Homo sapiens: one gene and its partners. The protein of the gene in region 4 interacts with the protein of the main gene of each other region in a biochemical or structural test. Each region holds a gene or a part of one and is shown on either strand. Other genes may lie near its edges.

Region 1 (7,023 bases), on a different chromosome or scaffold from region 4:
AATCAATTTAGACTTCTATTTCTAGGAGATGTCACAACTTAGACTTTTTCTTTTTTCTTTTTTTTTTAAGATGAAGCTATTTTAAGCCTGCATCCAAATGCAAGCAACTGAGCTGGAACTGCTTGCAGGATGCCGTCTGTTAACAGCCATGGCTGAAGACTGAAACCTGCAGGATGGGCACCAGGAGCCTGGGTCGTGCTCCTTTACAGGGCCAGGAGCTGTCCCTCTGCAACACCCCCACCCCACCCCAACCATTGTGGGAAGGTGTCTGAGGCCTAACTGTGTGGATGAACTCTGCAGAGGCCTTTAGAAATCAGGCCATCCCTCTTCTTTTAACCCTCTGTTGTTTGTCCCCAAGCTGTTTGGCCTGCAATCTGAGGAGACAACTGCCTTTTCATGTTTTATACATTTTATTCATACATTTCTCCAACTTTGAAATGACAAAAGCCCAATTCTATGGTTTCCCATTACACAGCATCCTACAGGTATGTATATTCTACAAGGAATACTATGGAGTTTCTCTTCTTCCCCTGTCACACAAGATAACTGATTAGGGTTTCATCAACTTGTACTGTGCCGGCAGCGCACCAGCATTCTGGTTGTTCCGGCGACAGGGCAAAGGGATCAGGATGGGAGGGCGTGTGCTAAGGCATGTAAATAGATACACACAGAGAGAAAGAAAAGCAGGACATTTACAAAGAATCCAAACCTTTCCAATCCCTTCAGCTCCTGGGTGTTGAGGGACACCTCCTGCACAAACGCTCTTGCAAGCTAAGGCTCTGCTGTACCCTGCAAATACTTACAATTGGATACGGTGAAATATACAACAACCATTAACATCTCTCTCTTTTTATCACTGAGACAATACTTCAACACCTTTTATAAAAAGGCAATAATACATACAGAAAAAAGAACACGTTGGCAAAACTTTATGCAAAACCACCCCAGAACTGAGTTTGAATGGCGACGTGCCTACACTGCAATTAAACACGATACTCGGGTCTTAGCACGTGAGGATTGGGCGGCCTTCACATCAGTCACGCTGCCTGCTGCACCCGGCAGCCGCCTACCTGCCTGCACAGATGACATTCCGGGAAACAGCTAAGACTGGAAATCAATTCCCCCAATTCTTGGTCTCTTCCAAATAAAAAAAAAATAGGGGGAGCCACTCACTGTGGAGGAATGCCTGTTTCTGTTCCCAAGGACAATTCTCGCTACAGAGGTTGTACTTCCTCTGGGTCCAGAGAGGGTCACCCCTAAGCCTCTGTCAGTAAGAACACTGGCGTGTTCTCTCAGTCACACACCAGAGAGAATGGAGCTAACACATAAGTAGCAGCTAAATTCTGAGTTTCTGAGCATACGCAGAGATGGAGTTGTGCTTGGGGCCAGAAAGGAGGTCTCCTGTGTGGTGACAAACATCTCTTTCCATTTTCTTTTGCTCAGTCCATTTGCACAGGTTCGAGGGAGTTGATGGAGGGTCAGACGAGAGGTGGTGGGAGCTCAGGATTTTCTATTCCCACAAAGAGCTAAGACTTAGGAGTGCTGGCCCCAGAGATGGTGCGGCCCTCTTTCTACTTCTGTTTCTGTGGGCTCTGTCTGCCCACCTGCTGCACAAAGCAAGGCAGGGGAAAGACCGGATGGGAACATGGTGGTGAATATCCTCTTTTTTTCCCTTTTCCCCCACTTCCTGGATGTAGGTGACAGCTAAACTTCACCCACTAAGCTGGAAAATCTGGGACTCCCCATAGCTCCAAGTTTAAGGCAAACTGATGTGTGTGTGCACAGGCAAAGCCAATCAAGCCATGAGCTTGGAGGAGAGTCCTGTATCCAGAGATTCCAAACAGAGAGGGAAATCTTATTTCTAAAGGAGTTAGAAAAGGAAAGGCTCTGGCAAATGAAATGATCTGTGATTAAAGCTTGTAGCCTTTCTGTAAGCTGCAGTGAGAAGGAAAGCATCTTTTAATAGAAGAATTAATTAGAGGCGCAGAACAAGAAAGCCACGCTCAGGGACCTTTAACTTATTACAGCCTGTAATCGCTCTCAGTATTGTAAGCCCTAGTCAAGAGGATGGAATTAGGAGGCTGTGTTCAGTTCTGAGAAAACAAGAAACACACACGAGTTTGATAATAGGAAGCAAGAAGGAGGAGGGATGAGGATGACAAGGAGCTTGGTTTTGGAATGCCGATTCCAAGGTGCCTTCTCTTTTCAAAGAGACAGTGTGGGAGGCATTTCTATTAAGAATTTGTTAATCAAGCAGTTTTCTTGGTAGCTTTAGCAACACATTCTCTTTGCCCCAAGTTAAGAAACTGGCCTGAAATGAAAAAAAAAAAGGACATGACATCAGTGGGGGACAAAAGAGAGCTGGCTTTGGGCTGCCTTGTTTTTCAGGGGCAGTTTCCACGCTGGGAATCTTCCTGGAGGGTGGTTCAATTGACTAAACTTTTTCAAGAAATAAACTTGAAGCCTTAATGAAGAGACAAATACAAGTGATTTAAAAACAAAAGAACTCTGCAGCGATCAGATCAAAGGCTGTAAAAAGGTAACAGTAGCTGCAGCCCAGGCCTGCCTGGAGCACAGGGGAAGGCTTGGCCCACTGGCTGTCTCTAGCAGCCTAAGAAGGAATTGGACGGGGAACAGGAACACCTCCTGCATTTCTACTGCAGTGGGGGACTTTGCGACATCTTTAGATATTCTGCCACCAATAGGATGGGCTGGGACGATGCCTTCTGAATGCAAATAGCAAGAAGTAGGTCAACCATTTGTTTTCCTCTCTGAGCAAAGATTTTAAATCATCTCACCTGACAAGAGATACATTTAATTGCATTTAAAAAGGCTACAATGTTATCTTGACACTGGGAAACTTCCAGATGAATTAAATTGAGTGACATTTCCCTTTTTAGCATTAAAATGGGATATGCTGTATGTGCAAAGTAATTACTGTCTTGTGACTGGAAAATCAGGACATTTCATCTTTTTAACAAAGAATTCAACATATAAAAACACTCCCTTTCTTGCTGTGGGGAATGGAGTTGGGTGGGGGAGAGAACCTTCAAAATGTGGCTCTCCAATACTTCAATTGACCACTAATAAGATTTAGTACTCTAAACATTCATTCTGGTCTTTAAAAGAAAGAAAGAAAAAAAAAGGTTCTGCTGATGGAATGGAAGCAGTAAAGAAGCTTTTAGCAATTTTCTCTGATTGCTTAGTGGACAATTGTAATGTAGCAGTAGCAGCAGCAGCAGCAGCAGCAGCAGCAGCAGCAGCAGCAGCAGCAGCAGCAATGTACTGAAATTACTCTGAATTCAGAAATGTAAGTATATGCAGCTAGGTCATAAAGACACTGCTTTAGAGAAGACATGTATTAGTGGAATGGAACAGGTAACATCTTTGAGAAGTCAATGAGTTCTGCATGCAGGGATTTCACCATCGGAATGATGGCAAGAATGATGCCTGCCTGTGTGCTTCTCAGAGGACGTATAAAGCCACTGAGGATGAGTGCTACAGTGCTTGTGAATTGTGGGGCCACAGACATTTAAGTTGGCATTGCTTTTCTCCTCCTCTGCTTAATCCACCTTTATAAATATGGCAGATGGCTTAAGACAGGCATCATCAGCATCTCTGGAGATGTGGGCTCAAAGGGCAAGTGGGGGCGTGGGGGTTTCCACTAGAGGGAGGGAAGTTTCTGTTTCCCATGTGTTAGTTGTAGTTGTCTTTGTGCTTCACCAGAAAAGAGGTAGAGTGCGCACCTTCACACTAAGAGCCCGAAATTGTGGTCAGTACCATACCAGGAACGACTGTCTGGCCTTGGCATCTATCAGATTCGAATCAGTTCTAACACAGCCCTACCCAACTCTTTGAAGGTTTCTCTCTCTATCTAGTGTGAGACCACTGTTGAGCTTATCTCTGGTTTGGTGGCTTGGTCACCCCACTGTGGGGCCCATACAGAAGTAGTTCACTCAATACCTTGTTAGTAAGTTGCAGACTCATCTGGTCACTGGCAAAGAACAACATCAGAAAAAAAAAAATCGCCACCATTTAATAATAGGCGGTGGGGGGCGGAGGCGGGTATGGTGTTGACAATGTAAAAGAAGTATACTAATGCCTTCTCTGTTTGGTCCTTTAAGAGGAGCTGTTCAGCTCAGAACACACCCTGCACATCCTGCCAAGGCACAAAGTGACAAGGCCATCTAACCTACAAGAAGCAAAAAATGATGGTATGTTTTCAAGGATCACAGGTTAATATAAGCACTTCACACCCTCACATGCTAATGAAAAACATTCTACTGACCTCTGGCAAAGAGTCTGAGAACCCCAGCCCGAATCTCCTGTATTGGAAGAATGTGACTTCATGGAAGAGTTATGAGATGGTTAATGTCTCTAAAGCAACAAGGACAGATGATTCCCCTGTGCCAAGGGATACAGCAAGAGGAAGGAGAGACCACAGGTGGCCTCCAGTACACCCGTGGCCCTTGGGCGCATGGCTCTGTGCGAGTCAGACGTGGTCCAGCTGTGCTCTGGCAGGCTACTTTGTCACCCTGCCAACTGATACTCACTCCTGGGCCTTCAAAGGTTCAATGAGCATCTAACAAATTATACAATTGTAAAGATTATCAGCTTGGAAGCCTGAACAAATCTATAATGAAATGAAGGACCCAAAGGCATTTAATTATTGAACACATAAAAGGAAGTATATTTAAAAAAAATTGGTCAAACTGTCCTGTTAGTTATCATTTTAAAGGAATTTACAGGGCTGTTATAGATGATTCTTTTGGAATATTTCAGTTTATAGCAAATGCCTAAACTGGTTTCTTCATTGCACAGTATTTTCTCTTAAAATGGGTGCTTTAAAACAATTACATACAGATTAAAAATCATTTCTTTGCTTAATTAAAACGTTAATACTCTTAGACAACACAGATCTGAAATGGTGAAACCAGCAATTCCCCCCACCCCACCTTACAACAAATTAAATTGAGACAAAATTACAAACACATTTCACTACATGATTATTATTAATAAAAATCAGTTTCTTTTTTTTTATAAAGTTGCCCAAAATGCAAGGGATGTGCATAGGTTTACAACTTAGTCATAATAGCATTTTATTCTTATTCCCCTGGGTGTGCCCCATGAACGGAATGTAGAATGTACTTTGCTGTAGATTACAGATTGTTTTGTCCAACACAGACACACCGACAGCATAAACGCTCGCGACTGTCCACATGCATTAAGAGTCAAGACCCAACTTCAAATCTCTAAAAGGTTTACAGGGTGCTTCAAAGAGACAGTATCACATTATCTGGATGTTACATAAAGGACTTAAAAAAAAATACTATTCTAAAAAAAAAAAAAGAGAGAAAAAAGGCCTTTAAAAATTTATGACTGTTTTGTAATCACTACACTAATTATTTCAAATAAATAAAGGAAAGAAAGATATCCCAATATTCCAATCCATAAAATCAGACTCTAAAAAGAATGTAGTGTTCCACCCCCAGTCAAGGTAACAGAATCATTGTTTATTATTATTAAAATAGATTATAGAAAGCAGCATCTATTTTGTGCAGTTTTTAGGGGCCTTGGAAATAAAAAGCTATGATTTCCAAAAATATAACATTCCAAAGGATTGAATAATACATACATTTAAAGATACATTTTATTAAAGTTTAGGAGAACTGATTAAAAAAGATACTGTCTCTTTAAATTAGTGTGTAATTGTTTTTCTCCTCCTATCTATTCGGACATGACAATAATTATAAATGTAGGTCACACTACAACTAGGTAGTCTCTAGGGACCATGACCTGCTGACACAAGGCCGATAACAAAGAGGCTTTTCCACAAATGAGGTGCTCCCAGTTATGCTCAGATATCTGGGGAGAGGCCTAATAGACCCAGGAGACAGGGACCCACTGTGGGGCTGTGCACACGAGCTCAACAGCTTCCTCCAGATGTCTGATTGTCTCATCAATTTCATTGTTGATAATTGTGAGATCGAAGTAGTGTGCATATGTTCTCTGTAAGATGTCAGACTCCTTCTGCAGACGCTGAAGAGATTCATCCTAAATGGTGATGAGATGGAGGTAGGGGTGGGCATGAGAGGAGGGAAAAGCAAACAGAAGAGAGAAATCAGTTGGATTCGTTCTCTTTTCACATTTTTGTTCATCCCAGTGTCAGAAACAGTCAAGGCCAGACCCTGATATGCCATATGCCAGCATGAGGCCAAGTCCGCTCCATGACAGAGGAGACAGTGATTGCTCAACATGCAACAGAGGGTCCATGACAAAGCAGACGAACCAGAGAAAACAGATACTCTTCAGGAAACATGCCACCCCCACTCAGGCCTAGCTGTGCCTGTCCCCAGAGTCAGGCTTGGTAGGGCCATGCCAGGTGTGGGTTACAGTGGCTATGGTGGCCCAAACAGGCCAGCAGGAAGCCCCCCGCCCTAGCCTCAAGCCACTCTCCCAATTGGCGAGAGGGCTACGGTGGCAAGGCTGGAGCTCTTTGCCCCCGTCCCCTTGGTCCTCCACACTCACTGGAGCCAGGCCTCAGGGCCCAGCTGTGTTTGCACCAACAAGTCCCTGCCCTTGGATGACAAATTAAGTTGTATTTTTTCCTCTTCTACTTAAAGGTGCCACACGTTCTAGGAATTCAATTACATATAATGGCCCTCACTCAATAGCAGCTGATGCCAGAGGCAAAAGATCTTTGAGTGTTACAAATAATGGCTGGAATAAGGCTGTTTCCCCAATAAACAGCACCTGGCATCTGATGAATCCCCCCAAATTGGTCTGCATTAGAAGTGGCTAGACAAATGTCACTGTTCGTAGGTCCTCATATCTCTTATGAAAAAAACAGAAGGAAGAGAACTCTAGGGAGTACTGAACTCTAGGGAGGTTTGCTGCAACAAAGGATGTTCCCTAAGCTGCAGCTTGCCACAGATTTTAAGAACTCTTGTAAGAGGGATCCAACAGGAGGAGGGAGTTTAGGGTCCCAGCTTTGTCATGCAAGTATAGCTTCTGCTACAGAGT
Region 2 (7,023 bases), on a different chromosome or scaffold from region 4:
CGCACCCACCCTGTGCCCTGGGCCGTGGCCCACCTTCCACGTGCTCCTCGGTGGGTGTGACCCGAAGCCGCTTGAAGTGTTCATCTGTCTCGGGGTCCACGACCAGCAGCCGGGCCTCGTCCTCCCGTGCCTTGATGCTGGCCACCACCTCAGCATGGCGCAGTCCCTCCACATTCTGCCCGTTCACCTGCCGCCACCAGCATGTATCAGCCCCGCCATGGGCCCAGACAGCCCCCAACGCCGCGTGGCCAGGTGTGGCATCAAATATTCATCACAGCCACCGCCCACCGAGGCAGCAGGAGGCGCACCAGCTCAGGTTCCCAGCGTCTCCCTCCTCCCTGCAAGGACCCAGGGCCCCAGTGTGGACAGGTGCGGGGCACTCGGCACCCCGCAGCCCTGGTGGGCCGGTACCTCAATGAGCCGGTCCTGGGCGCGGAGGCCAGAGCGGGCGGCAGGTGAGCCCGGGTCCACAGAGCGGATGTACTGGCCGGGCCGGGACTTGTCACTATGCAGGTTGAACCCATAGCCCTGAGGTCCCTTTCGCAGGTGGCAGAGCCGAGGGCGCAGCTCCCTCAGGGGCCCACTGACATCCTGCAGGCCCAACGGACAGGGTCAGTCTCTTGCTCCAGCCTCCCGCCTCCAGAGGCCACTCCCCGGTGGTGCCGCCACTGCCCAAACTCGGTACCGTGCCCCCCACGGGCAGGCCCAGGTCTCAGTGGCAAACACTCCGGGCACCCAGGCTGCCTGTGACAGAGCTTTAGCTGTGGGAACTTGGGCAAAGCCTGTTTTCAAACCCAGAAGCCTCCCCGACGGGCCCAGCCGCCTTCCCGGGTTGCTGGGAGAATTCCTTTGGCTCGAGGCCAGCGTGGCGCACAGGCAGGGTGGGAGGAAGCACCAGGTGGGATGAACTGTCGCCGTTGGCCTCCTGGGGCGGTTGTCCCTGAGGGCTCTGCCTGTGCGTCCCCCTGCCCCGGGCTCTCCTCCAGAGCGTGGGGCAGGCGCTCCTAGGCCAGCAGTTTTGTTTTCTCTCCAGAGGCCTCCGTGGGGCTGGCTGCGGTGGCGGCTCTGTTTGCTTTCACATTCCAGGAAAATGAGCCGCCCCACCCCCGTGGGCCCAGCAAGCAGGGGCTGGGGCAGGAGCTTAGTGTGGACAGGGCACAGAGGGCCTCCTGGTGCCCGGAAGGACCCCCCGCTACCATCCCAGGCCCTGCCCCATGTTACCTCTGGCATCCTGCGGTAGGGCTCTGGGCCAGGGGACCATGCAGGCAAGGCCAGGCCCAATGACCACCTCCCAGCCAGGGGGTGGGCCAGGGTGCGGCGGCGGTGGCCAGCGGCTGCCCGTGCTCAGTTAAACATGGCGGTGGCCGGAGCAGGCAGGAGGCAGCTCAGGTTTCCAGGGAGCGCCAAGCTTGAGGGCGTGCGCAGGGGAGACTGTGCAGGCGGGCTGGGGGCTGCCAGGGCCCTTCCCTCACCTCCTACCTCCCTGTGTGTCCCTGAGGGACCACAGGCCAGGCCAGGCCAGGGCTGGGGCGGCATGGCAAGGGGGCGCTCAGACCTCAGGAGGGCAGGTCTCCAGGCCTCAGACACCCCCAACCCCTCCAGCCACCCACCTTCAAGCTCGCTCCAAACCCCAATGGACCAGAAACGGCCATGTCAGCGGGGGGGACCGCCCCGCCAAGGGAGCAAGGGGGTCCTTCTCCACACAGCTAGTGCTCTGTCCCCTGGGCTCAGGACCTGCCCTTGGTCTGGAACACCCTTCTCCTGTCCAGCCTGCCAGATGCCTCATCTGAAGCCTCCTGCCCACCCTCTGAACCCTCTCTGCATGGCCACCACCCAGCCCGTCACACCAGAAACTCCAGGGACAAGCCTGTGGCTCCCTGGCCCCACAGGGGCTCAGCTGGGCCACATGGGCTGAATTAGAGGGTGCAAGACCCCCAAAATCTCCAGGGCCCCACCACATAGACTCACTCCTCCCCCAGACACACCTGGTGGCACAGGCGTGGGGCTTCAAGGCTGACCCTGACACCTGCCCACCAAAGTGCCCCTCAGGGATGCAGTCACAGCACGGCCCCCAGGCTGGCCTGGGACGCAGGGAAGGCGTGGGGACAGGAGTCCAGTTCGGGAGGGGAAGTGGAGCACAGCCCCCAGGCTGGCCTGGGACGGAGGGAAGGCGTGGGGACAGGAGCCCAGTTCGGGAGGGGAGGTGGAGCACGGCCCCCAGGCTGGCCTGGGACGGAGGGAAGGCGTGGGGACAGGAGTCCAGTTCGGGAGGGGAGGTGGAGCACGGCCCCCAGGCTGGCCTGGGACGGAGGGAAGGCGTGGGGACAGGAGCCCAGTTCGGGAGGGGAGGTGGAGCACGGCCCCCAGGCTGGCCTGGGACGGAGGGAAGGCGTGGGGACAGGAGTCCAGTTCGGGAGGGGAGGTGGAGCACGGCCCCCAGGCTGGCCTGGGACGGAGGGAAGGCGTGGGGACAGGAGTCCAGTTCGGGAGGGGAGGTGGAGCACGGCCCCCAGGCTGGCCTGGGACGGAGGGAAGGCGTGGGGACAGGAGTCCAGTTCGGGAGGGGAGGTGGAGCACGGCCCCCAGGCTGGCCTGGGACGCAGGGAAGGCGTGGGGACAGGAGCCCAATTCAGTGGAGGAGGTGGGAGCGTGATATGGGCCCAGTCCGCAAAGACACATCACACAGCCACAGACACAAGACGTCCACACACACCTGCAAACACGCACAGCAGCCCACACATGCGGCCAGCCCCACAGTGCTGGCCCGGCAGCCCTTCCCACGCCTGCACAGCGGCCTGCGGGGCAGGGTTTCTCAGGGCACCAGACAGGAAGCAGGATCTGGTGGGTGTCTGGGGCCCTGAGGCCAGGCCAAGGACCCCTCAGTGTTCTCAGGGTCATTCTGGCCACCCCTCTGCCTCTGTCCAGAAGCAGCCGTCTTTCACTCTACAAGGCAAGAAGTTCTGCCTATCAAACCTAAACCCCTTCATTGTCAGCAGGGTCCCAGTGGCGCCAGGCACAGCACTAAAACCTCAGGTGGAGGGGCTGCAATGGAGGGGCCAGGGTGGGCTGCTGGCAGCACATGGGCTCGTGGGGAAGGGGGGCCCAGAGAGCCGAGGAGCTCGGGCGGCGTTCATAGCTCACATTCCTCCTCCCTGCCCTGGCTCAGCACACACTTCCTGCCGCCTCCCGCCAGGCCCTCGGGCTCCCACGGGCTCCAGGCTCCCTCCCTGCCGGCGGCCAGCACAGAGCTGGACCATCCCTGGTCCCCCAGCCATGCCTGTGTCCGGACAAAGAGGCTGGCATGGGGGTACCCTGGGCACCCCCCCAGATGGTGACGCACCAGCCCTGGCAGAGAAAGGCCTTCATTGTTGCTCAGCGACCAGCCTGCTTACATCAAGGTCCCGGAGTCCCCTCCTTCCACCCCGGGAGGCTGAGCGGCTGCCGGTTCCTCCTAGCCCTCCCTTCCTCCCACCCCACCTGACCTGTACCAGCCTCTGGGGTGGGCTCCGTGGAGGGGCTCCCGGAGCCCGGGCAGGTGGCGTGGCACTCCCGGAGCGTGCCATGACAGCGGCACAGTGACAGCAAGTGGCAGGCGTCCGGCCGGGGTGGCCTGAACTCTCTGGCCGACCCAGGCTGCCACCCCACTTATCTACCTCCCTCTGCGGCCCTGGCTCCCCGGGGATGGGTGGGGACGTGGGGGCTGAGTCACTCTGGGGAGCAGGGTGATGACTGAGCCCGCTCCCCTGCGAAGGCTCCAGCCTGGCGCCCCCCACCCAGCTAGGCTTCCGTCCCAAGAAAGGAAGGAAGGAAGCTGCTGGAAGGCCCTGCCCTGCCCCAGGACCCAGGGCTGAGGGGACAGGGAGGAGTCCCGGCCCCAGAACACAGGACGGTCCTGTTGAGGCTCCAGAGGAGCAAGAGCCAGGGAAGCCCGGAAGCCCCCGCAGGCACCGCGCCCCAACCACACAGCCGCCTCCCGCAGAACTGTCACCCCTCACACCTGCTCTTAGCCCCCAAGGCCCTCCAGATGGGGGTGGAGACATGGGCTAGGGGCAGGGGGCAGAGGGCTCAGGGTCTGCCACCACCTCCAGGGCCTGGCACCGCTGGCCACCCCGTCTCTGTTTGGGGGCTGTCCCCTGTCGTCACTACTAGGATCAGCTGCACTGCAGCTGCGGCCACCCCCAGCCTGGTGTGGCCCAGGGCTGAGTCATCACTAACTAGGCCTTCACGGCCCCCAAAAGGAGGGGCCAACCACATCAGTGTCCTCCCCTGCCCACCTCCCCTATCCCCAGCCAGGACAGAGGACACTGAGAGCCACCCTTAGCTCCCAGGGGGCACCCAAAGTTGGGCCCTCTCCATCCTTCACCAAAGACAAACTACACACATCCCTTCCAGAGCTCTGCCTCTCTGCCACCAGTGCCCCCACTGGAGCCATCCCCGCAAGGTAAGCTTTGCCCTCCTGGGCTCCCTGACCATCTGAGGCATGCCCTGAACCCAGGCTGAGAAGGGCAGGATCTGAGCCTGCTCTGTGGAGGTCAGGTGAGGCCCACCTCTTCCTGCCCATGCTGGGAGCTCAGGTGAAGAAACCTCAGGTCCTGAGCCAGGCGCAGGGGCTCACACCTGTAATCCCAGCACTTTGGGAGGCTGAGGCAGGCGGATCACTTGAGCCCAAGAGTTTGAGACCAGCCTGGCCAACACGGTGAAACCCTGTCTCTACCAAAAACACAAAAATTAGCCAGGTGTGGTGGTACACGCCTGTAATCCCAGCTACTCAGCAGGCTGAGACATAAGAATTGCTTGAACCCAGGAGGCGGAGCTTGCAGTGAGCCGAGATCGCACCACAGCACTCCAGCCTGGGCGACAGAGTGAAACTCCGTCTCAAAAAAAAAAAAAAAGAAAGAAAGAAATGAAACCTCAGACCTCAGGGGCCGGGTACAGTGGCTCACACCTGTAATCCCAGAACTTTGGGAGGTCGAGGAGGGCAGATCACCTGAGATCAGGAGTTCGAGACCAGCTTGAGCAACATGGTGAAACCCCGTCTCTACTAAAAACACAAAAATTAGTCAGGTGTGGTGGTGCGCGCCTGTAATCCCAGCTACTGGGGAGGGTGAGGCAAGAGAATCGCTTGAACCCAGACAGCGGAGGTTGTAGTGAGCCAAGAAAGAAAAAGAAAAAGAAACCTCAGGTCTTGATGCCAGAAGAGAGAAGGGGAGACCCTGTTCCTTGGGTGCCCCCTGACCTCCTGGAGCCCCTGTCCCCAGCCAGACTCATGCACAAAGGGACCTGCCACTCAGGCCACCCTTTGTTCCTCTAAAAATACACCCAGAGGAAGCCCCTCCTAGGGCTTCCTGCAGCCCCCAGAGCCTGAAATAGCAGAGGGGGAAGGTCCCACCCAAGGCAAGGTGCCTGGGCCACTGCACCCTCCAGATAAAGTCCGAGGGCCGGATTTTTCCACAGGAAGGTGAACCATGCGTTTGTGTCCAAATCAATGGACAAACGCCTGAGGCAGAGGGGGAGCTTCCTCCTGGGGGAGGGAAGGTGGCTGGGAAAGAGGGAGGCCCCAACCCTCAGCCTGGAGACAGGGGCTTAGGACCAGCCAGCCCCCCTGCAAGGCCAGCCCCCCCACCAGCCCTGGGCTGGGCACCTTGGCCCTGAGCACCACTGTGGCCCGCCCTCAAGCCCCAGGAACAAAACGGGTCCCACAGGTCCCACGGGCAGGCCTGCGCCCAGGCTGGGCTCCCCACAGGGAATGCTGTCTCCCTGCCAAGCCGCTCCCCCCGGGCTCAGCTCCTAGGGGCAGCCAGCTTCAGCAGTGACGTCTGGGAAAGGGAGAAAGTGAATGTGTATATCCCCTGCACCCTCAGAACTCCAGATCCCACACCCCTGCCCCAAGCGCGGTTCTCACAGTGGGGTCTGGCCAACCCCTGGACTCATATCCCCTGAAGGGATTTCTTTCTTTTCCTTTTTTTGTTTTTTTTTGAGACAGTCTCACTCTGTCGCCTAGGCTGGAGTGCTATGGCGGGATCTCGGCTCACTGAAACCTCCGCCTGCCGGGTTCAAGCGACTCTCCTGCCTCAGCCTCCCAAGTAGCTGGGACTATAGGCGTGCCCCACCATGCCCAACTGATTTTTGTATTTTTAGTAGAGACGGGGGTTTCACCACATTAGTCAAGCTGGTCTCAAAATTCCTGACCTCAGGTGATCCACCCATCTCAGCCTCCCGAAGTGTTGGGATTACAGGCGTGAGCCACCGCACCCGGCCAGGGTTCTCTTTGAAAATGAAAAAAAAAAAAAAAAAAAGGTAGGAGAGAACATGGAGATAATGCCATCAGGGCCTCCAGGAAGATAAGACAGACAGCTTCAGGCTGTTCCTCCTGGTCCCCAAGGCCTGCCAGGCCGCCCCTCCCAGTCGGCCACCTAGCAGGAGGTGGAGCAGGCCGCCCCTGTACTTTTCTGGGTCTCCTGGCTGGGAGCAAGGGCAGGGGAAGGAGGAAGTACTACCCAGCAGGAGTCCAGGAGGAACAGCAGACAGGGTCCCAGGGCCCTCCCTTGTATCTAGGGGGAGGAGTGGGCTCACCCTGGAGCCTCCTGGACCCCCAACTCCACTCCCATGCTCCCAGCCCCACCTACGCCAGGCCTGGCAGAGTGGCCTCCTAGGCTTCCCCAACCACGGCGCTGCCTGTGGAGAAGGCCGGCCCTCTCCCAGGCCTTCCCAGCATGCAGGCGCCTTCAACAGAGACAAAGACAGAGCCACGGATGACACCCAGCACAGGCACAGAGCTGCGCACACGCAGACCTGGAATGCCTCTTCCCAGGGTTCCTCAGCCACGAGGCTGGGGGCTGGGGAGGCGGCAGCTTGTCAGAGTGACCCCTCGATAGGGCAAGTGGCTCTGGAGCATCCTGGAGAAGAGGAACAGGCCAGGCTGCCCTGACCCTACCCAGTTTAAAACACAGGCTGAGGGTAGAAACAGTGGCCCCCAGTGGCCAACAAGATGGTCCCTGGGGCAGAAAAGGAGCCCCAAAAGGC
Region 3 (7,363 bases), on a different chromosome or scaffold from region 4:
CAGGAGGAAGAGAATGCCAGTCTCGCACGCCCTCTCCCACAGGCCTGGCTCACTGAGATTCATGAGTATGCCCAGAGGGACGTGGTGATCATGCTGCTAGGCAACAAGGTGAGTGGCTCCGGGGCAGGGTCAGCCCAGCCCTGCACTTCCTCAGCCCTAGCCGGCCCCATAACCACCCAAGAACAGTTATCTAGGCATCCTTCCTGAAAAGGACTCTGCAGCCTCCAGCTCAGGGGTCAGACATATCTGGAGGCTTCTGCCCATCCCATCTGCCCCTTCCAGGGAAAGTCCAAGTTGTTGCCTGAGAAATCAAGGGGTGCCCAGTTCTCAGCCCCCATTAGAGCAGAGTGAACAGGGTCCCAGGTCAGGGGCTAAGAGTGCAAAGGGTTAGCCCCAACTGCTGTCCTATTCCAAGACCCTTTACCAAAGGTGAGATCCCAGAGCTGGGAGCTACACTGGGCAGAAACCCTGGCCCCAGGCCAATCACACCTGCCTGCAGTCCCTTGGGCCACCAGCAGAGGGCAGGCAACGCCTGCTTCTGGGGCAAAATATGGGCCCGCTGGGGCGGAGGCCTCCTTCCCCAGAGTGACCCATTTGGGCTTGACAGGCGGATATGAGCAGCGAAAGAGTGATCCGTTCCGAAGACGGAGAGACCTTGGCCAGGGTAAGTGATTGTCTGTGGGACAGGGTGAAGGGTGGGGGCAACCCGACGCTGGCCCTGAGGACACTCTCTCCCGGGCAGGAGTACGGTGTTCCCTTCCTGGAGACCAGCGCCAAGACTGGCATGAATGTGGAGTTAGCCTTTCTGGCCATCGCCAAGTGAGAGCTGGGCAGGGAAGGGAAGTGTGCGGGGCAGGGCGGCACACTCCAGGAATCCAGTAGGGCCCGGCCCCTGGCCCAGCCCCTGGACACACCTGCATTCTGCAGGCTGAGGTCCATTTGCTCTGGGAGCACTGGGCCACTGGGAGAGGGGAGGGGGCGGCTCAGCTCCTCACCCCAGCCCAGCCCAGCCCAGCCCAGCCCATTGTCTCTTCTTCAAGGGAACTGAAATACCGGGCCGGGCATCAGGCGGATGAGCCCAGCTTCCAGATCCGAGACTATGTAGAGTCCCAGAAGAAGCGCTCCAGCTGCTGCTCCTTCATGTGAATCCCAGGGGGCAGAGAGGAGGCTCTGGAGGCACACAGGATGCAGCCTTCCCCCTCCCAGGCCTGGCTTATTCCAAGAGGCTGAGCCAATGGGGAGAAAGATGGAGGACTCACTGCACAGCCGCTTCCTAGCAGGGAGCTATACTCCAACTCCTACTTGAGTTCCTGCGGTCTCCCCGCATCCACAGGGAGGGTAAAACACTTAGCTTTTATTTTAATAGTACATAATTTAATACCAAAAAAGGCGCCTGGATCCCCAAAAAACCGAGGCTGGGAGCTAGTGGCCCTTTTGCTTTCTAGGACTTGGGGGGCCGGCCCTCCCTCCTAAGCATAACAAAGGTGGTGTTGCTCCAGCTCAGCCCCAGGGGACACAGATGCACTTTGGGGGTGAGGGCAGGTAATGACTCCATCGCACCCTCAGTTCAGCTGGACAGAGGCTCAGGTGACCCCAGCCTTCACTGTCTCCCGCTCTCCAGGAGCTTATCTTCGCCCCATCTCCCAAATAAGTGGGCCCTTGTGCTGTGAGGAAGACCAAAGCCTCAGGGAAGATAAGAGATATGGAGATGGGAGGGGGAGGACAAGGGGCAGAGAGTAGGGTCTAGCTGGCTATCTCTGGCCTTACTAACACCCCCCTGGAGGCATGCCCCTTTTCTCCAGCACACAAGCACATTGGGGCACCTGGAAATATTGGTTCCAGGCTCCTGTTCTCTGGACTTCAGATCCTGGGGGAGCCCCTCCCCCCCCTGAATCCCTGGCTTAGCTACCTTCCTGCCTGTGCACCTAAAAACCTCAGGTCAGAACTAGGAAAAGAGTTTTGTTTTTATTTTTTTGAAATGGAGTCTCGTTCTGTCGCCCAGGCTGAGGTGCAGTAGTGCAATCTCCGCTCACTACAACCTCCACTCCCTGGGGCTCAAGCGATCCTCCCACCTCAGCCGCCGAAGTAGCTGGGACTATAGGTGTGTACCATCACACCTGGCTAATTTTTGTATTTTTTGTAGACACAGGGTTTCGCCATGTTGCCCAGGCTGGTCTTGAATTCCTGAGCTCAAGCAACCTGCCGGCCTCGGCCTCCCAAAGTACTGGGATTACACGCAGAAGGCACCATGCCCAGGCTAGATGTGTCTTATCCCAATCCTTTGGCAGGCATGCAGCTCCACAGGCGATTTCTTCAAGCAGCTGAAGTGTTTAGCCCTCCTGGGTTAAGAGCCAGATAAGGAGAAATCCCTTTCCTAGGTTTGGAATGTGTTGTGAAAAAAAAGAGAAATCCCTGGCTCCTGGAGCTGGTGGGAGACAAGATTAAGCAAACCTCCCCTGACATGTATCCCTTTGACCCCAAGCTCTGCCTCCTCCCTGACCACCCATGCCCTTTCCTTTAACTTCTCAAACAGATACCAGGGCCTAAACTGCTTTACCTCCCCTCCTACTGAGTCAGGTTAGGTGGTGGGAGGTCACCCATTTCCGAGTTAAACCAATGCAATATGAGTAAAACAAAGTCATGTGGGTATGTCTGGGGTAGAGAGAGGGGTAGCAAGTTCATGTGTCCTCCTTGGTCACATATCTCCCAAAGCTCCGATCCCTGCCATGGGAAGTGGACAGGAAACATGAGGTCATGACCTGCAGGCATCTTTACTGCAGCTCTGCCGGCCTGGAGGGGGAGAGGGGGAGGAAGAAGTATGCGCTGCACATTTCTGAGGCTACTGCATTTGCTTTCAAGGCAGAAATCTTGCTCTGAGCAGTCAGCGGCTCCAGTTTGGGCCCGATAAGGAAGTTCTCCGTGGCCTCCCTCAGGCAGAGCAGGGAGGAGGCTGACATTGCCAGTCTCTTCTGGGGCCCAAGGCAGGTTGCAGGAGATCCAATCCCATAGACAGCTCTGGGCCTCTTGCATTTGAGTTTTTCAGAATTAAACTGCAGTATTTTGGAAAGCACATCCTGTCCACTGTTTCTTTGAAGTGAGTGGGGGGGGGGGGTCTTGTTGAAGGAATTGTCATTCACTGCCAAAATCATTCCATCCTCCTTCCTCAGTGTCTGTCCTCAGATGGTCAGCTCCCCGCTCAACAGACTGTCTCCCGCCTCTGTGACCAGCCTCTCTTTGGCAAGAGGGAGCTAGAAGGCTTTACAGTCCTAATCATTTTTCTGTTGGAAAAAAAAAAAAAAAACCAAGGCTCCTTTCCCTGTGGCGTGTACCCAGAGGTTGATTACCTGAGTCTGTCCTGCCTCTCCCCACCCCACCTCCCTAGCCAAACGCTGCTGCCAAAGCCCACGCTATTGCCCTAGATGGCCTGTCTTCAGCGGGCTGCCCCTCGAGGTCCCAGGCTCTCCGCGGAGCCCTCACCTTCCCAGCAGGGATCAGAACCTGCACTCCTCTATGCGAGTCCTGGGACAGCACAAAGTGGATTAGGGTTAGGGTTCCCACAAACGGAAAAATGTTATTCAAACAACTCTGTAGGGTCCGAGGAGGCCCTCCGTCTTAATTCTCGAGACTGACCGGCCCTCGCTGCCCCGAGCGGGAGCAGTTGCCCCGGCAACAGCCGCTCCCTCTCAACTGGAGCTGCACCCAGGCTTTGGCTAAAGGCTGTTAAAACGTTGGCCAGGTGCGGTGGCTCACGTCTGTAATCCCAGGGCGGATCACCTGAGGTCAGGAGTTTGAAACCATCCTGGCCAACATGGCGAAATTTCGTCTCTACTAAAAATACAAAAATTAGCGGGGCGTGGTGGTGCGCGCCTGTAACCCCAGCTGCTCGGGAGGCTGAGGCAGGGGAATCGCTTGAACCCGGGAGGCGGAGGTTGCAGTGATCCGAGATCGCGCCACGGCAGTCCAGCCTGGGCGACAGAGCGAGACTCCGTCTCAAAAAAAAAAAAAAAAGTTAGGGTCCTTTACCCGAGGGCCGGCTTTCCTCACTCCCCGCCACAGGTAGGGGAAACCAGGCCGGAGCCGGCGGGCCCACCCGCCCAGAACCGGGAATTCGGCGAGCCCCGCCCCTGCCACCCCAGCGCCGGCCGCTCGGTAACAAACACTTCCACTTCCTGAGCGCTAGTCTTCGCCCGCCGCGGGGCGCCGCGCCGAGCGCAGGCCCCGCCCCGCGCGTTCCCAATGGCCGGCGCCGTTCACCCGGCCGGAGCGCCCAGGCCTGCAGCCCCCTATTGGCCCGCGGAGGTCCCCACCCTCAGCGCGGCCCCGCCCCCGGGGTAAGGAGCCGGGGCGGACTCTGGGACGCTCAGACGCCGCGCGGGGCGGGGATTGGTCTGTGGTCCTCTCTCGGCTCCTCGCGGCTCGCGGCGGCCGACGGTTCCTGGGACACCTGCTTGCTTGGCCCGTCCGGCGGCTCAGGGCTTCTCTGCTGCGCTCCCGGTTCGCTGGACGGGAAGAAGGGCTGGGCCGTCCCGTCCCGTCCCCATCGGAACCCCAAGTCGCGCCGCTGACCCGTCGCAGGGCGAGATGAGCGCGGACGCAGCGGCCGGGGCGCCCCTGCCCCGGCTCTGCTGCCTGGAGAAGGGTCCGAACGGCTACGGCTTCCACCTGCACGGGGAGAAGGGCAAGTTGGGCCAGTACATCCGGCTGGTGGAGCCCGGCTCGCCGGCCGAGAAGGCGGGGCTGCTGGCGGGGGACCGGCTGGTGGAGGTGAACGGCGAAAACGTGGAGAAGGAGACCCACCAGCAGGTGGTGAGCCGCATCCGCGCCGCACTCAACGCCGTGCGCCTGCTGGTGGTCGACCCCGAGACGGACGAGCAGCTGCAGAAGCTCGGCGTCCAGGTCCGAGAGGAGCTGCTGCGCGCCCAGGAAGCGCCGGGGCAGGCCGAGCCGCCGGCCGCCGCCGAGGTGCAGGGGGCTGGCAACGAAAATGAGCCTCGCGAGGCCGACAAGAGCCACCCGGAGCAGGTAAGCGGGGCCCAAGCCGCGCAGGCTGGCATGGAGTGGGAGGAGGATCCGGAGAGACCCAGGTGCCCCGGCCGTCCAGCCCCGCGCCCGCCGTCGTTTTTCTGAAACTCGAGCTGCGAGGGGGAGACCGCTTCCGCCCGCCGACCAGGCGCCCTGACACATCCTAGGCAGGCCTGGGGCTGCGTCCCGCGACCTCCTCTCCTTCCCAGGCTGTGCTGGGAGCTTGAGCGCCTTTGCCGCCTGCACCTCTTGTTCCCTGGCCTTTGGGAGGGCGGCGCAGGGGAACCCAGCCCCCTTCCCTCGGGTCTGTGGGTGTCTGCTCCCGTTCCTCGGAATCCCCCAATCCTGCTCCTTCCCTGGTGCCCTCTCCTCGTTCACCCCAGTCCGCAGATGGGCCGGGGAGAAAGGGCTCTCCGCCCCAGAGGTGCCAGCTTCGCCCGCCACTCCTACTTCAAAAGCTAGAGGAATAGCATTACTCCTCCTGTGTGGAGCCCCGGCGCGAGGAGGCCCTCTCCGCAGCCCGCCGGTGTGTGTCCTGAACTTCAGTCCTGCTGGACTTCATCCTCCCGGAGTCCTGTGTGACTTCTAAGGGAGAGGAAGCCCCACCATCTCAGGGCGGTGTGGGGGTTGCCTGGCAGGGAGGAGGAGCCAAGGCATCTCGGAGTGGTGGTTCTGCCACCTCAGAGGATTTACGATTCTCAGGAATGTGAAGAGTAAGCGCCTAGAACTGTATCTGGGAGGGAAGGGGAAAGACCTTGGAAGAAGAAAAAGATGGCCATGGGGAGGAGAGAGAGCTCCTGGGGCTCACGGCCCTGTGTGCGCCAGCGGAGCTCACGGTGAGCCGGTGGTCTTGCCCTGGCCTTGCCATGGTCACTCTGGTGCCCACACAGCCAGCAGGCCGGTTGCTTTTTGCCCATGTTTGGTGTTTGCCCATGGGATCCCAGTTTGGATCAGCTGCAAGAGGGGCAGCTGGCAAAATAGGAGTTGTGCTGAGCCTCCTGTCCCCAGAGAGTGGAGTGGTGCATTGTGTAGGGCAGGGCGTGAGCCTCCCAGGACCCCTTCAGCTTGCACCACCAGCTCTCCCTGGTGGCAGTGTCTGATGGGAGTGTCCGTGGGGCTACGAGGAGCCTCCTGGACAGAGAAAGGGCACAGTTCGGCATTAAGGTAGAAGGCAAAGCCCTAGAGGATCAACTGGTTTGGTGGAAGTGAGGTCACCAGAAGCCCTGTCCAGCCAGAGCTGGGTGCTGGGAATGCCAGGGCCACCAGGCTCCCACTTCCTGCCCCTGCCAAGCTGGCATTGGCAAGGGGAGGGGGAAGGGATCTGAGCACCCGGAGCAAGGAGGTTGATGCCAGGGAGTTGGGGCCGATGATCTCCAGTCCCAGGCAGAAATCCAGTGTGAACTTTGTGCTGAGTCCATCGATCGATTTGACATTCTTTTTTTTTTTTTTTTTTGGACTTTGGCACCCACACAAATACCCACCCACCCCCACCCCCCACAAGTTGCAGTCTCGTTCAGCTCCTCCCTTTGCCCTTTTGGTTATGCTGCTGGGTGCCAGAGGGCCTGGGAGGCGAACGTGGAGGCCTGGCATAGCACACGTGCGCAAAGGCAGCAGCTTTGAGCTTCCTGGGTGAGCACAGACTCAGATTCCTGCATGTTTTGGAGGGACACCTACATTTGTGTGTACTTTGTTAGGCCAGGAGATGAGAGGAGAGCCACCAGCAAATCCTGGGGACACCATCACCAGCCAAGTCCCAGGACTTCTGAGTTCTGGTTCTCCCATCTGTGAGATGGAGGCATTGGGCGATGTGATGCCTGCCTTCTCTAGAATTATAGAAATGACGTGAAGCACTTGAGCCCCTTACTAAATGCTGAACTGCACTCCTTCATGCCTGGCGTTTGAATCCCAGCTCCTCTAAACTGACTCCTAGTCAACACCATTGAGTCCTTCTAGCAGAAAATCCTCTCCTCTCAATCCTGTGTGTTGAGCATACAGACACCCATGTGGTTATTAGAAAAAATGTTAACAGACATTGTAAGAGTTCGTTTTTCTAAAACACACCCGTTTCCTACATAAAGCATCAAATGGAGGTTTGCCAATTCGTTTTAGTCTGAATTTGTGTGCAAGGTGGGGCTGTTCCCTTGTCTTCATTAGCCCTCCACTTACTAAGTGATGATATCAGTGGAAAAGTGTGGCGCAGAGAGTGGTTGGCTGGGTGGCCTCTGGCTGGGAAGACCAGCTGTGTCCAGAACCACTCAGGGCAGAGGCTGAGGGGTGCCTGTAACACTGGCCATCCCCGCTGGGGAGTCTAGGCCTAAGGAGGTGGAAGTGGCTCTCCAGC
Region 4 (7,023 bases):
AATTACTAAGCACCAAATTAGCACAAAAATTAAGCTCTTGTGGACAGTAATATATCGAAGGTATGTGTTCCATGTAGTCACTGCTGGTATGCTCTCCATATCATCAAAAAAGCACTCCTGAATAAAAGAATTATGGCTATTACAATAAGACAGTACAGTTTCATGCCACCATTGTGGTTTTATTTTTAATATATGAAAATAAAAGAATAGTATTACTTGAATCTAAGTGTATTTTAACAAATATAAATCATTATAAATGCCATGTATGATGTCATTCTATAGCCAGAATAATGTCTACTGGAGCAACACAGCTTTATTAAAAATGAGAAACATCGTAATTTTTCAAAATTCTAAAAATGTATCACTGATTATATAACTGTATTATTATTGGACAATTTTACCATTAAAGGCTTAACAGTGGCATACCTTTTATCAAATGAATGATACCATCTAAATGAAGTTTCCCAGAACTCTCTTTGATTTAACCTGTTTCTTCAGGGGTCCATGGACAAGTACAGTTCAGTATACTTCTAGCTATAAAGGTCTTCCAATAGACTGAAAGCTCATTTGTGTTTGAACATTTCTTAGTAACTTAGGACTTTCTCTCTTTCCAGCTGTGATTTAAATTACATAATTCTCATCCTAGGCATATTCCTCTAGAAATCTTTGTCTTTTGGCATAGAAATACATTTCAAAAATTTGAAAAAGAGAGATTCCAGACAGTCCAAAGGAAAAAGAGTTTTGTTTCTCACAAAATCAACAAAACTCATGGGAAAGTGCTATGAATCACAAAGAAGGGCTCCTATGGAATTGGGATATAGTGCACTGGTTAGGAGTATGCATTTTTTGAGTCAGACAGATCTGGATTTGAACCCAACCTCCACCATTAACATCCTAGGAGCTGCTTGAATTCAAGCATGTTGCCGAACTCTGAACTTTAGTTTCCTTATCTGCAAATGTGAAAAATTTTAAATACCTTCCAGGGTAGTTGTGGGGACTAAATATATGCCACCTAGCACTAGATGCAATCCATTAATAGAAACTATTATTAGTCAAGGATATCATTCTTTACAACTAAATTTTTAGGCTCAGGACTGAGAAATTCATTTAGATTGATATTAAACTATATAGATGGGCTGGGCGCAGTGGCTCAGGCTGGACGTGGTGGCACACGCCTGTAATACCAGCACTTTGGGAGGCTGAGGTGGGTGGATCACAAGGTCAGGAGTTCAAGACCAGCCTGGTCAACATGATGAAACCCCTTCTCTACTAAAAATACAAAAATTAGCTCGGCATGGTGGTGCATGCCTGTAATCTCAGCTACTCAGGAGGCTGAGGCAGGAGATTAGCTTGAACCCAGGAGGCAGAGGTTGCAGTGAGCCGAGGTTGCACCATTGCACTCCAGCCTAGGTGACAGAGCGAGACTCCATCTCAAACAAACAAACAAACAAACACACAAAAAAACACTATATAGATGAATTATCATTTAGGAAACCTTCATAAAGTTTAGAAATACTAAAATTACACACTTTAGGGATCTATTTTATTCCCTCATTTTACAAAGAAGGAAACTTCTGCCTACAGATGTTAATGGCTTGTGTCTTGTCAAAGGTCATATTATTCACAAATGATCTATACTATTAAACATATCAATTCATTACAACCCTGCCCATGGCTCATTTCATCCAAGGCATTAAGTTTTCTACTAAAACAACAAAAACTCTCCTTTTTATATTATTTCCTGTTTTAAAAATAAAATGCTTTTATTCTTAAAACCTAATAGAACAAAATTTCTGTCTGAAGATTGGCACTAGTACATGTTAAGCTTATATACATTCTCTAAAAGAAATCTTTTCAGAAACCCAATGTATAAAGCAAACTCACAAGATAAAAAAAAGCCCACACTAGCTAAATTCAGGCAAGACTGATATACAAACCAGAATGTGAGTTAGTCCTATCAAGAGGCTAAATGTTTATATACCTTATATATGCTACTTCCATACAGATTATTTTGCGAGCTATAAATAATGAAAGCTACTATTTATTTATACAGTTATTTATACTGCACCTCTTCCCACAGAGGGTTCAAGATGGTAATAAAGCAAATGCTTTCTAACTTATAGTCACAGTTATCACTGGCTTAGTAGAGGACCAAAAACTAAATCCTTTCCCATTTTATGGGAAGAGATATGTCCATTGCAAAAAGAAATCATTTGTTATTTTACATTTTAACGTTGCTTGTATAATTAATGAACTTCATACTTTCTGAGTTTTAAGATACACCTTATCCTAATCCTATGATTTTAGTAAATTTTGTTACATGCTACATATTGCATTCTACTCAATTGCATTCTGTGGGGTGAAATACCCCCAAGCGATGTATACCTACCTTTAAGTCTTCTTCGTTAATTTCTTCACTTATTTCCAAGCCAGTTTCTTGAGATAACCTTCTTGAATATATATCCAGTTCAGTCAAGTTTGCCTGAGGGGCCAGTGACACTTTTCGTGTGGATGCTGTTGTCTTTCGGTGAATGTTCTGACCTTGGTTAACTGAGTGTGTCATCAGGTTCAGGACAGACTGCCTCCTTCGTGCCTGAAGCGTGGGGCCAGTGCTGATCACGCTGATGCGAGGCAGTATCGCCTCTCCCTGCTCAGAATCTGGTACTAAGGACAGCCTTCTCTCTAAAGGCTCATCAGAATCCTCTTCGATGCCATTCATTTGTAAGGGAGTCTTTTGCACAATGGAAAATTTTCGTATAGAGTTGATTGGATTGAGAATAGAATTCTTCCTTTTTTCCCCAAACTCTCCAGTCTGTTTAAAAGATTGTTTTTTTGTTTCTGTCCAGGAGACAGGAGCATCTCCTTCTAATGAGAAACGGTGTAAGGTCTCAGTTAGGATTGAATTTCTTCTTTCTGCACTAAATTGGTCGAAAGAATCACATCCCATGAGTTTTGAGCTAAAGTCTGGCTGTAGATTTTGGAGTTCTGAAAATGTCCCATAAAAATAGCTGCTACCTTCATGCAAAATTAATATTTTGTCAGCTTTCTTTAAATGTTCCATTTTAGAAGTGACCAAAATCCTAGTTTTGTTAGCCATCAGTTTACAGACACAGCTTTAAGATATAAAAACATATAAATATCAATTTTATAAATACTTTATTGCAATATGTCTCGTATTTTAGCATTTTGTTAATGTTTTATTGCATATAATCTCTATCATACAATTTTATTATATTTTAAATGATTCTATAAGTACTCTGTAGTAATTAAATTGGTACCTTGTGAATTCTGATAGCATGAAATAACATGCTATATTGAAAAGTTGCATGTTAACAGACTGAGAATGAAATTAAATTTCCTATATTAAGTAGATATTTGACTTTGAGCAAATCATTTATCCTCGGGGTCTCTCAGTTTATTTATCTAGAAAATGAGGAAATTATTAGATGATCTTTAAGGTCCCTAGAGATTTGTACTTCATTTCTTTTAAATGTCAGAGCTTTGTTGCTCTTTAAATTTTCTATTAATTTCTTTTTTACATTTTAGGTTGACCATCAATTTATTTCTCAAGTGTTTACATTAAGACTAATCTGTTTCACTAAAAATAAAACAGCAATAATAACAACTGAGAATTCGATAATTAATTTGACTCTCCTCAAATAGAATTTTAATCTATTCTAGAAGTAAATCCTGACTAGAATCATCTAAGACATATCAGTTTTTTTAGGCATTAAAATGTCATATATCATATAGAAAGACACATTGTTCTAGATTATACTGTAACACACTAACACAATACAAATGTAGTAAAGTTTATATTGATAGAAGTTACTTTTCACAATCTCAGGGTTGAAAAGATAGTATCTTGGATATTAAATTTAACTAAATTCTAAGAAAGGTACTTCTAGGAATAACCCAGCCATTTTATATACATATACATCTTTATTGCTTAAAGTCTTTATTTTTAGAAGAGTATAATAACTGTTCTCCTAATAAACTACTTGATAGTCCATTAAATCATTTTGAAACTTTGAAATCAAGCCATATAACTGACTGTCTGTCTGTCTAGGGAATTTCATGTACATTGGACCCTAACAGGAGTTCCAAGGAAATATAAGTCCTGAGCTCTGTGTGACTGAGGAGGAGATCTCCAAGGAAGTATTGAGGTAGATGAGTAGTCTAAGCATATTAAACCAGTAAAACACTTAGCATATATATTTTCTTAAGAAGGTTACTATCTAAGGAGAAGACAGAATAAAATACTAACACAAAAAGTAAATAAAAATGTTAAGTATAATAATAATTAAAGTAATATATATCACAAGGCAATGATACTGCAAAAACTACATAGATAGCAATTGCTATAACAGTATAGCAATGAGAGAAACTGGTTTAGCATGAGGCGGTGAGAAAAGGTTTTAATGGAAGTAATCTTGAATCCTGGCCCAGTAGGGCAGATCAGATTTGAGTTAATACCATGCTACATTCTGCCATACCAACAATGGTGAACATATTTCTCAAGAGGTAAAATGCAATCTATGATGGGACAGTCTGTCTTTCTTTTATTTTAGCATGAGCATTATAAGTAAGGTATTCAAAGAACATACCTTTCAAATATTTCTTTTTCTGTTAAAACATCTAGGTATCCAAAAGGAGAGTCTAATAAATACAAATCAGCATCTTTGTATACTGCTCTAAAAAGAAAATGGAAATTAAATTACATTTCCTCTCTATTTCCTGGTCATCTAGTGTAGATGATTTGCCTTAAACAGTTCACTACATGCATTACAATATGGTCACCACATCGATTCACTGAAATAACACTATTCTCAAAAGTGGTGCAGAAGTAGCACTTTTATACATGTTTTTACTATGGTAGATTATTTTAAATGAGGAATAAAGGAATAAGTTGCAGAAGATTTTTATCACTTTTCACAACATTCCAAGAACTGCTGAAGTGATTTTGCTAACTGTAAGTGGCATAAACTAGCAAAAGTCACAAACTGAACTGTACCATAGCATACACTTTAAAATATTACCTTAAAAAATATTTTAACAATAGTATCTATTTAGAGGCAAGTACCATGCTATGTGCTCAAAATACAATGGCAAAAATTATACAGTTCCTGCCCTTGAAGATGTTGGGTTTTGGTGAGGACACCAAAAAGAAAATAAACTATTCCAAACTGTAAAATGTCAGAGACAGCTAATAAATTACATTACTTATGTGAAATTATTTTTAAAATGTTTTTCTAAGTGTTAACCACTATCAACAAATTGATAGCAGTGCTGCCACAACTGTATAATTGATATTGCATTTTGTTCCTTGTAGTTTCAGTCTCTATATCATATTCATAAAAGTTCCAAATAAGGAAAGTATGAGTAAGTCACAACAAAATGTATATCCATATTATTTTACTATTTAGCTAAAATATGAAACCATAAGCAAGTAAAATCTACATTGAGTTGACCTTAGAACAGTAATAAAGATGAAGACACAGTTCCCATATTAATAGAAATGAGATAATTTCTTCATAACATTTAAATTTTTCAGGTGTGATTGATAGTAACCTTACTTATATCTCAAGTACATAGGATTCTCTGTTTATACATGTAATTGTTGGTACTTCTGTAATAAAGAAAATTGTATTCAGCACACAATTAAGAAATTTTTAAAGCCAATTTAAAAATTTTTTTAAAAACCAATGGCAAAACTTTAAAAGTCTAAAACAACCTTTATAGTGTAACTTATTTTTGAAGACAGTATGCAAGAGCTACATAATGGATCCCATCAAAATGTACACAGTTTCTTCCCCACACTCTGTTCTTAATTCTCTCCCTCACATCTATGACAAGTTTCTTATGAGATTAGAAATAAGAAATTCATCATCCAAAACTGGACAACACATTACACATTCTGATCAGAATAAGAACAGACAATTATTTTTAGTTCCTCAAAGTGTGTGCACCTTACAGCAAAACCAAATCTTAAACTGATAACACAAACTCAGTTCTATGTTGGATGTCTAGAAGCCATATACTCTATCTTATCTAAATTTGTGGAATTCTTAGAATAAGTCTTACTTTGGCTCACAGATAAAAACAATCAACTTCCATTTATTTAGAAGCCTGTGAATTATCCGTATCTATTGATTTATTGCCTTACAGTGTATTTCCAAGATCAAAGCATGGTTTAATGTAAAGAATCAAAAGGACCTGGTTCAAACTGTGACTCTACCATTTTCCTGTATGGCTTTTGGCAAGTTAACATCTAACAGCCTCAATTATCTTATGATCTCTTCTGTAAAGCAGGGAGAACAATTCTTACTTTGCAGAGCTGTAAGGGGATTACATACACACAAAAGTACACACATGACTAGAATACTACCAGGCAATTGCAGGTGCTCAGTTAGGGTTAGTTTCCTGTCTCAGCTTTTGGAAAGCAACAGAAAGTAAGGGAAAGGAGCCAAAACATCAATGAGTCAATGTGATTTCTTGTTAACGACTTTGGCAACAAAGTGAGAAGAATTTTGTTCAGATAAAGCTTGAGAAACATTTGACATCAGAGTCACCAATAATTGTTTAAACTGAAAGTTACAGTTTAACCACAAAGCTCTCTCCTTGACATACATTATCTATATTTACATCTCTTTGACAGCTTTAAAATGCTTGGACCAAGAGTGTTTCTACTAAGGGACCTCCTCCCCCAACAATGTTAATGCATTTGTCCTGTTTATTTTAAATATTATAGATTTTAAGCCAAGTGACATCATTTGCCTTCCTATTTTGTTATGAAAATTATGATGAAAAATTTTGAAAATGTATGTTTATCTATACCAAGAAGCCTAAAGCTGGTGTGTACATTGGAGTGGCAGGGTCTATGATGGAACTAACAGATATTTACATCTTCTCTGTCCAGTATTATGCAGAATCCTAGAGTTTTCCATTTGTAGTAAACTATACTATGAGGCAAACAAATACACTGACACCAAGATACGGGCACAGATTCTGAGTAACCATAAT

The links.
Region 1: the proteins of CFTR (region 4) and CASK interact in a test that uses a peptide from one of them, tested with the Homo sapiens proteins (2 studies listed by IntAct, with this or other methods).
Region 2: the proteins of CFTR (region 4) and NHERF2 form a complex in vitro, tested with the Homo sapiens proteins (4 studies listed by BioGRID and IntAct, with this or other methods).
Region 3: the proteins of CFTR (region 4) and NHERF1 form a complex in vitro, tested with the Homo sapiens proteins (9 studies listed by BioGRID and IntAct, with this or other methods).

The regions. Positions count from the first base shown.
Region 1 is NC_000023.11:41,514,543-41,521,565, forward strand, and holds the end of CASK (peripheral plasma membrane protein CASK), read right to left. Parts: intron 6,055-7,023; coding exon 5,878-6,054; 3' UTR 392-5,877; downstream 1-391. UniProt on the Homo sapiens protein: Multidomain scaffolding Mg(2+)-independent protein kinase that catalyzes the phosphotransfer from ATP to proteins such as NRXN1, and plays a role in synaptic transmembrane protein anchoring and ion channel trafficking.
Region 2 is NC_000016.10:2,029,892-2,036,914, reverse strand, and holds part of NHERF2 (Na(+)/H(+) exchange regulatory cofactor NHE-RF2), read right to left. Parts: intron 3,622-7,023; exon of another isoform or gene 3,564-3,621; coding exon of another isoform or gene 3,483-3,563; intron 3,327-3,482; exon of another isoform or gene 1,231-3,326; coding exon of another isoform or gene 1,222-1,230; intron 592-1,221; coding exon 412-591; intron 188-411; coding exon 34-187; intron 1-33.
Region 3 is NC_000017.11:74,744,266-74,751,628, forward strand, and holds the start of NHERF1 (Na(+)/H(+) exchange regulatory cofactor NHE-RF1), read left to right. Parts: upstream 1-4,362; 5' UTR 4,363-4,581; coding exon 4,582-5,022; exon of another isoform or gene 5,023-5,602; intron 5,603-7,363. Other genes in the region: RAB37 (ras-related protein Rab-37), read left to right, coding at 43-108, 608-664, 743-819, 1,041-1,146. UniProt on the Homo sapiens protein: Scaffold protein that connects plasma membrane proteins with members of the ezrin/moesin/radixin family and thereby helps to link them to the actin cytoskeleton and to regulate their surface expression. Necessary for recycling of internalized ADRB2.
Region 4 is NC_000007.14:117,588,024-117,595,046, reverse strand, and holds part of CFTR (cystic fibrosis transmembrane conductance regulator), read right to left. Parts: intron 4,695-7,023; coding exon 4,608-4,694; intron 3,114-4,607; coding exon 2,390-3,113; intron 118-2,389; coding exon 1-117. UniProt on the Homo sapiens protein: Epithelial ion channel that plays an important role in the regulation of epithelial ion and water transport and fluid homeostasis. Mediates the transport of chloride ions across the cell membrane.